Linked DNA regions of Homo sapiens. The protein of the gene in region 3 interacts with the protein of the main gene of each other region in a pairwise test. Each region holds a gene or a part of one and is shown on either strand. Other genes may lie near its edges.

What was found.
Region 1: the proteins of PEF1 (region 3) and EIF4G1 interact in binary tests that used the Homo sapiens proteins (3 or more experiments, as listed by UniProt).
Region 2: the proteins of PEF1 (region 3) and TFG interact in binary tests that used the Homo sapiens proteins (3 or more experiments, as listed by UniProt).

The regions. Positions count from the first base shown.
Region 1 is NC_000003.12:184,327,955-184,331,605, reverse strand, and holds part of EIF4G1 (eukaryotic translation initiation factor 4 gamma 1), read right to left. Parts: coding exon 3,604-3,651; intron 2,976-3,603; coding exon 2,850-2,975; intron 2,698-2,849; coding exon 2,616-2,697; intron 341-2,615; coding exon 242-340; intron 135-241; coding exon 1-134.
Region 2 is NC_000003.12:100,715,898-100,719,548, reverse strand, and holds part of TFG (protein TFG), read right to left. Parts: intron 1-3,651. UniProt on the Homo sapiens protein: Plays a role in the normal dynamic function of the endoplasmic reticulum (ER) and its associated microtubules. Required for secretory cargo traffic from the endoplasmic reticulum to the Golgi apparatus.
Region 3 is NC_000001.11:31,638,256-31,641,906, reverse strand, and holds part of PEF1 (peflin), read left to right. Parts: exon of another isoform or gene 1-298; coding exon of another isoform or gene 299-307; intron 308-3,651. UniProt on the Homo sapiens protein: Calcium-binding protein that acts as an adapter that bridges unrelated proteins or stabilizes weak protein-protein complexes in response to calcium.

The DNA.
Region 1 (3,651 bases), on a different chromosome or scaffold from region 3:
TCTATCCAGTCGAACACCCGCTGGTTACTGCTGCCCTCCTTCAGCAGCTTCTCCAGCTGCCTGTTCAGCTCCTCGGAGGGGAGTGCCCTCTGGCCAGGGGCTTCCGACTCCTCTCCCAGGGTATACTCCACCTTCTGCAATGGAAAAGGCCCGCAGTTAAGAGGTAAGGTTGCCAACAGGAGACAAGAAAGAAGACTGGCCAGCCTCAAATGCTAGAATTAACCCAACTCCATCCCCAAACCTGTTCAGCGACGAATGCACCAATGTCCTGGCCTTCAGGTAGAAATTCCTTCCAGCTAAGCCCGGCTTCTCGCCACAGCGTCCCCACCTTTTTAGGACCCTGGAAAACACAAGACCAACCCAGCTTACCAAAGCTCTCTCTCTCCAAGGACCCAACAGCTCTACCACATTAATCCAACAAATATTTACTGAAAGCCTACTAGGTACTTGCTAGGCATTAAGGATGCTATAGAAATACTAATAGGCAAAGCCCTTCCATTCCTACGGTCTGGTGCAGGGCACAGATGTCAGTCAAATAACCACCCAAATAAATAAGAACTCGTCCCAGGAGCGGGCGGTGGCTCACGCCTGTAATCCTAGCACTCTGAAAGGTCGAGGTGGGCGGATCACCTGAGGTCAGGAGTCGGAGACCAGCCTGACCAACATGGTGAAACCCCGTCTCTACAGAAAATACAAAAATTAGCCAGGCGTGGTGGTGGGTGCCTGTAATCCCAGCTACTCGGGAGGCTGAGGCAGGAGAATCGCTTGAACCCAAGGCGAGGGTTGCAATGAGCTGAGATCACGCCACTGCACTCCAGCCTGGGCGACACAGCGAGACTCTGTCTCAAAAAAATAATAATAATAAAATAAAATAAAAGAGAACTTGTCCACCAAAGTGCTATGACACTAGGGTAGGAAAAATGATGTAAGGGCCTCTAGGAAGGGACAACTTCTAACAAGTATGCTTGTTTCCTAAACCCAGAAAATCTTAAGACACAAATATACCCCATCCCTAACACAAATAAAAAATCCTCATAAAACCAGCAGTCTGAGTGCATTTTCTGTAAGGGGCAATAGACTATGAAGACATCACTCTTTTCTTTATAACAGACTAATGGCACTGGCTCTTAGCAAGATTATTGCAGTTCACAGATTTTAAAACATGCCCATTTTTTCACATTTTAACTAAAAGTTGTCTTACAGCCGATATATATCTTTTTTTATTTTGAGACAGAGTCTTGCTCTGTCGCCCAGGCTGGAGTGCAGTGGCACAATCTTGGCTTACTGCAACCTCCCCCTCCTGGGTTCAAGCAATTCTCCTGCCTCAGCCTCCCAAGTAGCTGGGACTACAGGTGCGCACCACCATGTCCAGCTAATTTTTTTGTATTTTTAGTAGATACAGGGTTTCATCATGTTGGCCAGGCTGGTTTCCAACTCCTGACCTCACGTGATCCACCCACCTCTGCCTCCCAAAGTGCTGGGATTACCACGCCCGGCCCAGTCTTTTCTTTCTTAACAGCGCATAAAGAATGTCTTATAATCTATGGCACCTTGGAGTTGATGAAATACACAAATAGTTCAATATGCTTATTTGTTGTTAAAAAACAACTTGTCCTGGTACACGTCTATTTAAAAGAATTAAATGATGTTGACATAACAATTCCTTTAAATCCCAAGTGTGATTCCTCCAGGTTCCAGATGGCTGAACCCTTGAAACTGCACACACTCACCCCAACTTCTCACTTCCACTAAGTACCACATTCAACTTACCTTTCCCCATCTCTTTACCTTTATATTCGCTAGTTACCAATTAACTTTCACAAAGCCGCTTCAGCACCCTGAAAGCCTCCTGTCACAAATATTGTCAAATATTCCTTTGCAACCCCACAGTACTTAAGATACTCCACTCTATTTCAACTGTTTTATGTCACGCTTTACTGTTGTTTTTATCAAGCTGTCATTTCTTTTTTCTTTTTTGGAGACAGAGTCTTGCTCTGTTTCCCAGGCTGGAGTGCAGTGGCACAATCTCGGCTCACTGCTACCTCCGCCTCCCGGGTCAAGTGATTCTCCTGCCTCAGCCTCCTGAGTAGGTGGAATTACAGGCACCTGCCACAACACGGCTAATTTTTGTGTTTTTAGTAGAGATGGGGTTTCACCATATTGGCCAAGCTGGTCTTGAACTCCTGACCTCGTGATCCACCCACGTCGGCCTCTCAAAGTGCTGGGATTACAGGCGTGAGCCACTGCGCCCGGCCCATTTCTTCCTTTTTCTCTACCAACTTGTTTCTTGTGTTTTATTCATTGCTGTGTCCCTAGTGCTTAGTATATGATAAATGATCATCAACAAAACCCTAGTTCAATGAATGAATAAATAAATGCATCAATCACAGGCCTAGGGTCTTAGACTGCCATTCTCCTCCAGTCTTGGCCAGAACTCATGATAGGAACTGGTGTGCGGGAGATGGCCCACCTCAGTATTTCCTCTCCCAGGTACCAACACAATCCTGTCATCACCATCACTCCACTCCACCAATGGACCATGAAGCTTCAGGGCCACAGCAAACAGCCAAAACCACACCGTGGGAGGCATCTCTGGACTCCTGGCCCTCACTCACCATGCTTTTGCACAGGAGGCCCAGGATCTCCAGCAACAGGGAAGCAGCTTTGCCCAACGGTCTCAGAGGCTTTGTAATCTCCCTACAAGAAGAGAAAAACCTAATGCTGACAGCCTCCACAGTTCTCTCACCACTACTCCATCTCCCTCCAAACCAGGGTATCCAACCCAGCCATTTCCCTACCACCTTTCCTCTGGTCTTTACCTCCCCTGAATTCCACCCAGGGGGACTTACCTGAACAGCTCCCCCATGGGCACCCCACCTTCCTGCAGAATGGGTGTTACCAGTTCCGCTAGGTAGAGCCACACGTGGGGGATGTCAATTTCCATGTCCTCAGCCAATTCCAAGATTTCATACAACCTGCCAAGGGAATTCAAAGTCAAGACATTCTAGGCCAGGTCCCCACTCTCCTTCTGGGGCAACGTGGCATGGCTAGGGCATCAACTATGGAACCCCCAGGAACATTTTCTAGACATGGGGACAATTATTTCAAGCTAAGGCCACCTCTGTGTCCTTAGATGGTTTTCACCCCGCTTAACCCCCTAAAGTTATGCTGACCAGGATGGTCAAGGAACCCATACTGTTTTTTGGTTTTTTTTTTGAGACAGTTTTGCTTTTGTCACCCAGGCTGGAGTGCAATGGCACGATCTCGGCTCACTGCAACCTCCACCTCCCGGGTTCAAGCAGTTCTCCTGCCTCAGCCTCCGAGTAGCTGGGATTACTGTGCCACCACGCCTGGCTAATTTTTGTATTATTAGTAGAGACAGGGTTTCACCATGTTGGCCAGGCTGGTCTAGAACTCCCAACCTCACGTGATCCTCTAAGGAATCCAACCCACCTTGGCCTCCCAAAGTGCAGGGATTACAGGCATAAGCCACCACACCCGGCCAGGGAACCTACACTCTTATGCAAGGTTCCAAGGGTCCCAAAAAGGAGATAGAAAATTGTGGGTCTGTATAAGTGGGAGGCCCAGAGAAGCTGGTCATACCCTTGGTAGTACTGAGCAGTAGACAGATGCCCAGCACAGAGCAGCTGG
Region 2 (3,651 bases), on a different chromosome or scaffold from region 3:
ACTGTTGCAAAACTGCTTTAATGAATGGATAGACAGTAAATTCTTTCAGGTCACTGACCATTTTGATATTAAGATGAAAACAATCAACTCTCCCCAGAAAAATATTTATATATTCAAAACAGTGTGTATTTATGACCGTGAAATCCCCCAGATCTCAGGGATAAAGAATGCTATAATTGGCATACCAACTGTGTGTCTCAAAAGCTTTCAAAGGGCTAAGGGAAAAATACATTCTCTAAAGAAAGCAAGAACAGAAAAGCAGCCAGAGACAAGGAGTTCATCAGGGACCTCTGCAGGGTGTCTTCACAAACAGTTGGGTGGGGAGGAGTTCTGTCCTGGGGAGGCCACAAGACTACTTCTGGGATGCTCTGCTGCACCTACTTTAACACTAATTAGTTGGATTTATTTTGGGCAAAGATGACAAAACTGAGAATTTTATAACTGTTTTTAGCTCCTTATAGCCAGACCCACTTCCCATAACATACTTGTTTAATGTTCAATTTTCATAAACACATTTTTTAAAGAAAATAAAGTATGTATGTAAAAGAAGAAAACTTCCTGTTCTTTTTTTCTTTTCTGAATCCTACAACAGAAACAGAGTATCTCTGATGGCAGGAACTTTACCTAAGCCATCCCTCCACTCTACTAACAGAATCTAACGGACACAAATCAAAACAATCAAAAACTTTTTGGCCAAGTGCGGTGGCTCACACCTGTAATCCCAGCAGTTTGGGAGGCTGAGGTGGGCGGATCACCTGAGGTCAGGAGTTCGAGACCAGCCTGGCCAACATGGAGAAACTCCGTCTCTACTAAAAATACAAAAATCAGCCGAGTGTGGTGGTGTGTGCCTATAATTCCAGCTACTTGGGAGGCCGAGGCAGGAGAATCACTTGAACCTGGGATGTGGAGGCTGCAGTGAGCCAAGATCACCCCACTGTACTCCAGCCTAAACGACAAAGCAAGACTTTGTCTCAAAAAAAAAAAAAAAAAAAAAAAAAACCATGAAATACAAAGTTGTAACTAAATGTGGAAGACAAACTACAACGAGGACACCTCAAGCTAAGGGTCCATGAACTGTGACCAACGGACAAAATCCCTGTGTTGTTATAGGTCTGTGAATGAAAAATGGTTTTTACATTGTAAAAAAAAGATGAGACAGAGGCCTTATGTGACCCACAAAGCTACAATATTTATTCTCTCTGATCTATTAAAGAAAATGTTTGCTGACCTTTGCCCTAAACAGTAGTTAAGAGAAAGCCAGTCAATGAGGTCAGTTTGAGATAAAGGCAAAGCATCTTCAAGTGGGAAAAAAGGCAGTTAAAGGCCAGGCACACTGGCTCATGCCTGTAATCTCAGTACTTTGGCAGGCCAAGGCAGGAGGATCGCTTGAGCCCAGGAGTTCAGGACCAGCCTGGGCAACACAGTGAGACCCCCATTTTGATAAACATTAAGAATAAGAAGCTGAGTGCAGTGGCACATGCCTGCAGTCCCAGCTACACGGGAGGCTGAGTTGCAAGGACTGCTTGAGCCCAGGAGTTCAAGGCTTCAATGAGCCATGATCACACCACTGCGCTCCAGCTTGGGAGACAGAGCAAGACCCTGTCTCAAGACAAAAAAATAAAAAATAAAAAAAAGACAGTTAAGCAAGTACTAGCCAGAGCAATTATGCAAGAGAAAAAAATAAAAGGTATCCAAATTGGGAAGGAAGCAAACTGTCCCTGTTTGCAGATGACATAATCTTATATAAACAAAAACCTAAAAACTCTACCAAAACCCTTAGAACCAATAAATGAATTCAATAAAGCTGCCAGAAACAAAATAAGTACACAAAAATAAGTAGTGTTTCTATACACATACAATAAAAAATAAAAAATGCAATCCCATTAACCACAGCTACAAAAATTTTTTTAAATATCTAGGAAGCAGTTTAACCAAGAAGATGAAAAACCTCTACAAAAAAAAAAAAAAACACTGATGAAAGAAACCAAAGAGCATACATATGTAATGACATCCCATGCTTATATAAGAACAAATATTGTTAAAATGACAAAATTACTCAAAGCAATTTACAGATTCAATTCAATCCCTATCAAACTACCAATAAAATTATTCATAAAAATTTAAAAACAAACCATAAAATTTGTACAGAACTACATACAACCCCAGACAGTCAAAGCAATACTGAGCAAAGAACAAAGCTGAAGGTGTCACACTTACTGACCTCAAAATATACTACAAAGCTGTAATAAGCATGGACTGGCACAAAAACGGACCCACAGACCAACAGAACTGACATAAAAACAGACCCATTGACCAAGAGAACAAACACATAGATCAATAGAACACATAGAACAAAAGAACATAATCCATGTTATCTATAGCCAACTGACTTTTGACAAGACCACTCATTAGGAAAAGGATAACCTCTTTAATAGGTCGGGAAAAGATTTCATGAATAAGACCTCAAAAGTGCAGTCAATAAAAGCAAAAATAAATATGATTATCTCAAACTGGAAAACTTTTCTGCACAGCAAAGGAAACAATCAAGAGTGAAAAGAGAACTTACAGAATGGGAGGAAATACAACTACTCATCTGGCAGAGGATGAATATTCAGAATATAGAAGGAACTCAAACATCTCAACAGCTAAAAAACAATCAATCCGATTTTAAAATCGGCAAATGATCTGAACAGACATTTCTCAAAAAAAGACATAGAAATGGTCAATAAATATATGAAAAAATGCTCAAAATCACAAATCATCAGGGAAATGCACACATATCAGGAAAATGAAGACCACAACAAGGTTCACCCCAGTTAGGATGGTTATTATCAAAAAGATAAATAACAAATGCTGGCAAGAATGAAGAGAAAAGGGAACTCTTACACATTATTGGTAGGAATGTCAACAGTACAGCCACTAGGGAGAACAGTATGAAGGTTCCTCAAAAAACTATAAATCGAACTAACACACAATTCAGCGATGCCACTACTGAATATTTAACTAAAGGAAAGGAAACCAGTATATTGAAGAGAAATCTGCACTCACATTTTACTGCAGCACTATTCACAATAGTCAAGATATGGAATCAACCTAAGTGTCTAACAACAGATTAACTGATAAAGAAAATATGGTATATATACACAATGGAATACAATTCAGCCATAAAAAAGAATGAAGTCCTGTCATTCACAGCAACATGGATGGAACTGGAAGACATTAAGTTAAAAAGATACCACATGCTCTCTCTCATATGTGGAAGCTAAAAAAAGTTGATCTTATACAAGTAAAAAGCAGAACAGATGACAGTAGAGGCTGCAAAGGGTAGGGGAAAAGAGGGATAGGGAGAGATTTATTAAAAGACACAAAAGTACAACTAGATAGAAGTAGTTCCAGTGTTCTATAGCACTATAGGATGACTACAGTTAACAATAACATATTATATAATTTCAAATAGCTAGAAGGAGAATATTGAATGTTTCTAACCCAAAGAAATAAATATTTGAGGTGATGGATATGCGAATTACCCTGATCTAATCCCATTATATGTAATGAAACATTACTATGTACCCCATAAATATGTACAATTATTATTTGTCAATTAAAACAAAATTTAAAAAAAAAAGTACTCTTGGGACTTTGCTAAAAAAA
Region 3 (3,651 bases):
CAGAATTACTCTAAAGATTAAATGAGAAAATCCACGTAAAGTGCTAGGTATGGTGTTGGGCATGTAGAATACTCCAAGTGGAGGAGTAATGCAGTTATGCAGATTGAAGAGGCAATGTGATAAGTATTCAATGGGAGTAAGTGTAAGGTACAGCACGGGAGAGTGAGATACCTAACTCAGTCTAGGGGTGCATTTTTAAAAGAGGTGATATTTAAGCCAACAACTGAATCACTGGTAGAAATTAGCTGAGTGAAGAAAGGAATGCTATTCCAGCAGAGGAAATAGCTGCACAAAGCCCATGAAGCAGGTAAGACAGCCTAGTATTTTGGAGGAACTTTAAGAAGTTCAGTGTAGTTGTAGTGATGTGGGGGAAAGGGGTAGGAAATAAGACTAGAAAGGTAAGCAAGGGCCAGATCCCAAAGGGCCTTGTATGCCTTTTTGGGGAGTGTGACTTCATCCTAAGAGTAGTGAGGGAGCCAGTGAAGTGTTTTGTCCCATTTGTGCTTTGGAGTGCTTACTGTGGGGTGCTGTGAGAATGGATTGAAGCAGGAGAGACAGGAGGCAGGGATACCGGTTTTGACGCTATTGAGGTAATCTAGGCTAAAGAGAACTGTGACCTGGTAGAGGAGATTTGAGAAGCACTTGGGAGGTAGATTTGAGAAAACTTGGCCTTAGGTTTGGATGATTAAGCAGAACGGAGCTCCATTCACTGAGATGAGAACACAGGGAGGCATGGGTTTGGAGGGAAGGTCCAGTAGGCTGCTGGATATGTGGGTCTGTAGCTCAGGAGTGATGAAGCTGGAAAGATTTGAAAGTGTGAGCACAGAGGTAATTGAAGTCTGGGGATGGTTCTTGGCTCATTGTTTATTGGTTGCGTGCTTCTCTCCTATTTCAAGTGGCTCTGCTGGTGAATGCTTGAACTGTTCCTCTTGTCTTCCTGTGATTGTTTAACCCCTTAGTTTGGGCTTCCCACCTCCTCCTGTGCACTTGAAGGGTAGCTCTGGGGTACAAACTTGTCTTTGCAATGCTCCCTCCTCCATTCGTCATCAGGGCTCAGCTTGGAACAGCCGTTGATACCTTTAAGCTTCACAGGGGTCTTGAGGTTAGAAGACTTGAGTCCTCAGAACTGGAAAGAAAAAAAAAATACCGGACTTTCTGAGGTGGTTATTTGGGAGGAGGTAAGCTCCCTACTGCTTGCGCAAGTGCAGGTAGAGATTCCAGGTGGTTCTGCAGAGATTCCATTATTAACTGAGAGGTTGAACTGAAGAGTCTTTGGGGTGTCTTCCAAAATGTGGCTTGGCTCTCAAAGTGACTCTAGGTGCTGGGACGAAAAAGAATGAGATTTTTCTAAGAGTCCCTGATTTCTGGGCTTGAAGGCTCTGAGAGATCACCCAATCCAGCCTTCCCCTCTACCTCTGTCCACAGTAGAAATTCATTATATTTGACAAAGACATTTAGCACAGTCCCTCACACAGACACATGCTAGGCACTCACTCATTTATTGAGTGAACAAACAGAAGGGGGTAGTGTAGAGTCATGCAGACCCTGACTTGAATCCCAACTTGCCCATTCTAGCTGCATGATCTCAGGCATGTTATTAAACTCTCTGCCCCTTAATTTTCTCATCTGCAAAATGGAGATGACACTGTTTACCTCACAGGACTGAGGATTAGTGAGAGCTGGTTGAACTGGAAGCACCTAGCAGAGCCTCAGTAAATGTTTGTTGCCCCCAGTCCCCCCAGGGCATCAGATGTAGCTTATTTGCAATCAGCCAGAGCCCTAGAGATAGTTTTTCTGTGTTGCTTCAGAAGCTGCAGTTACTGAACTCTTCCTGTCCTTCCCCTCCACCTGCCTTCACAATCCTGTTTATCAGTATGAAATAACTCTTGGAAAAACTCTAAAAAGGGCTGGGAGCATGGAGTAGTGTAAAAGAACGTGGAGTCAGGGATGCTGTTTTTCATTTCTGGTTCAGACCTTTGCTAACAACTCAGTGACACTGGGTGACCCTCTGTGAGGTGGGGACCACCTCATCTTCTTCCCCAAACTTCCTGTGCAGCCTGCATTCTGTCTCAGTTGGCTCCACCTCCTTCATCTTGTGCAAAAGCTAGAAACCCGAGTCATTCTGAACACTTTCCTCACTCCTCCTCCATCTCTTTCCTAATCTAATTAGTCACCAAGTCATGTCTGGTCTATCTCTGAAATAGCTTCAGAATCCATTCCGTTCTCTTCATCCCCAAGTGTGCTGTCTGGTTCATGCCCTGCCTGCCCAGCACCTGGGCTACTGCCTCCCTCACTGGCTCATCCTCCACACCGCCGCTGGTTACTTCTCTAAACAAGGTTCTCATCACGTTCCTCTCCTATTGGAAACCCTTCTATAGTGCTCTGTTTTCTCCGGCATAAAGCCCCAACAAAACTCTTTAGAGTGGTGTTCATTTGTCCAAATATTTGTGGAGGCTTGCAGGTGCCAGGCACTGTGCTGGGCCCTGGGGTGCCATGATGAGTGAGGCGCAGTGTCTGCCCCTGGGGAGCTTACTGTTGGGTGGGGGAGATGCTAGACAGAAACTACTCTTAGACACTGATACCTCACGGCTAACTGAAATGCAGGGGGAGAGGTGCTTGGTCAACGAGTGTATAGAGGGCCTGCCTTTCTGGGTTCACACTGCATTCTTGGCTCTGCGGTTTAACTCATTCCCTGAATGCACTATGCTCACTCTTAAGTCTGTGCGTTTGTCTTTCTTCTCTCTTCTGTCTGGAGTGTCCTTCCCTGCCTGCCTTTTGGAAAATGTCTATGCATCCTTCAAGGACCATTTCCAATATCACTGCCACTTCCTCCAGGAAGCTTTCCTTGACCCACTTCATACATTGTTCATTTATTCATTCTGCAAACAGCACAAATTCCTCCATCTAAGCTTCCTTGATAGCACATAAGTAGATTTTTCTGATGGCACTGATCAGATTGTATCACAATTATCTGTGGGCCCCTTAAGGGCAGGACTTCATTTACTTGTGTCCTCAGATCTACTACAGAGCCTAGTACAATATTGTCACTCTGAAAATGCGTGCTGAATGAAGTCCTTTAACAGCTCCGTGGCTTAGTTTCTTCATCTGTAAAAGAGGGCAACTAACATCTTCCTTTTTTCTGTTAGGAGGCCATTGGCAAGATTCTGCCTGTAGTGTTTGTGTTTGTGAAAGTACTTTGTAAACTACAGAGGAGGTCTTCAAATGCAGGACAGAAAGGAAAGGGTTTAATTGCTGCCAGACTACAATAGCCAGAAGGGCAGGAGACCTGCCTGGCAGCACCTGCTTTGTTGGCCTGGGGATGTTTCCTAGGTGGTTTATAGGTGGTTTCCTAGGTGGGTTTTCCTAGGTGCCAGGTGCGGTTTATAGCTTTGCTCACAGGGCTTATAGTGGGGCAGCTACTTCTGGCTTCGTGTCTGGCCTGTTCTTTGGGTGTGCCCAGATTCTGCAGAGTTCCCACTCCCTTTCCATCCTATGCTGGAATCCTGAGCCCTATTGCTTAATGAAGGAGTGTTGTAGCAGGAGGCAGGGGGAGTCATTGGGTGCAAGGGAGTGGTCCAGCCTTGTCTCTTCCTCCAGCTCACAGCATTACTTGGGCAAGTCCCTCCCTCCCTCCCCCATCTGTAAAATGGG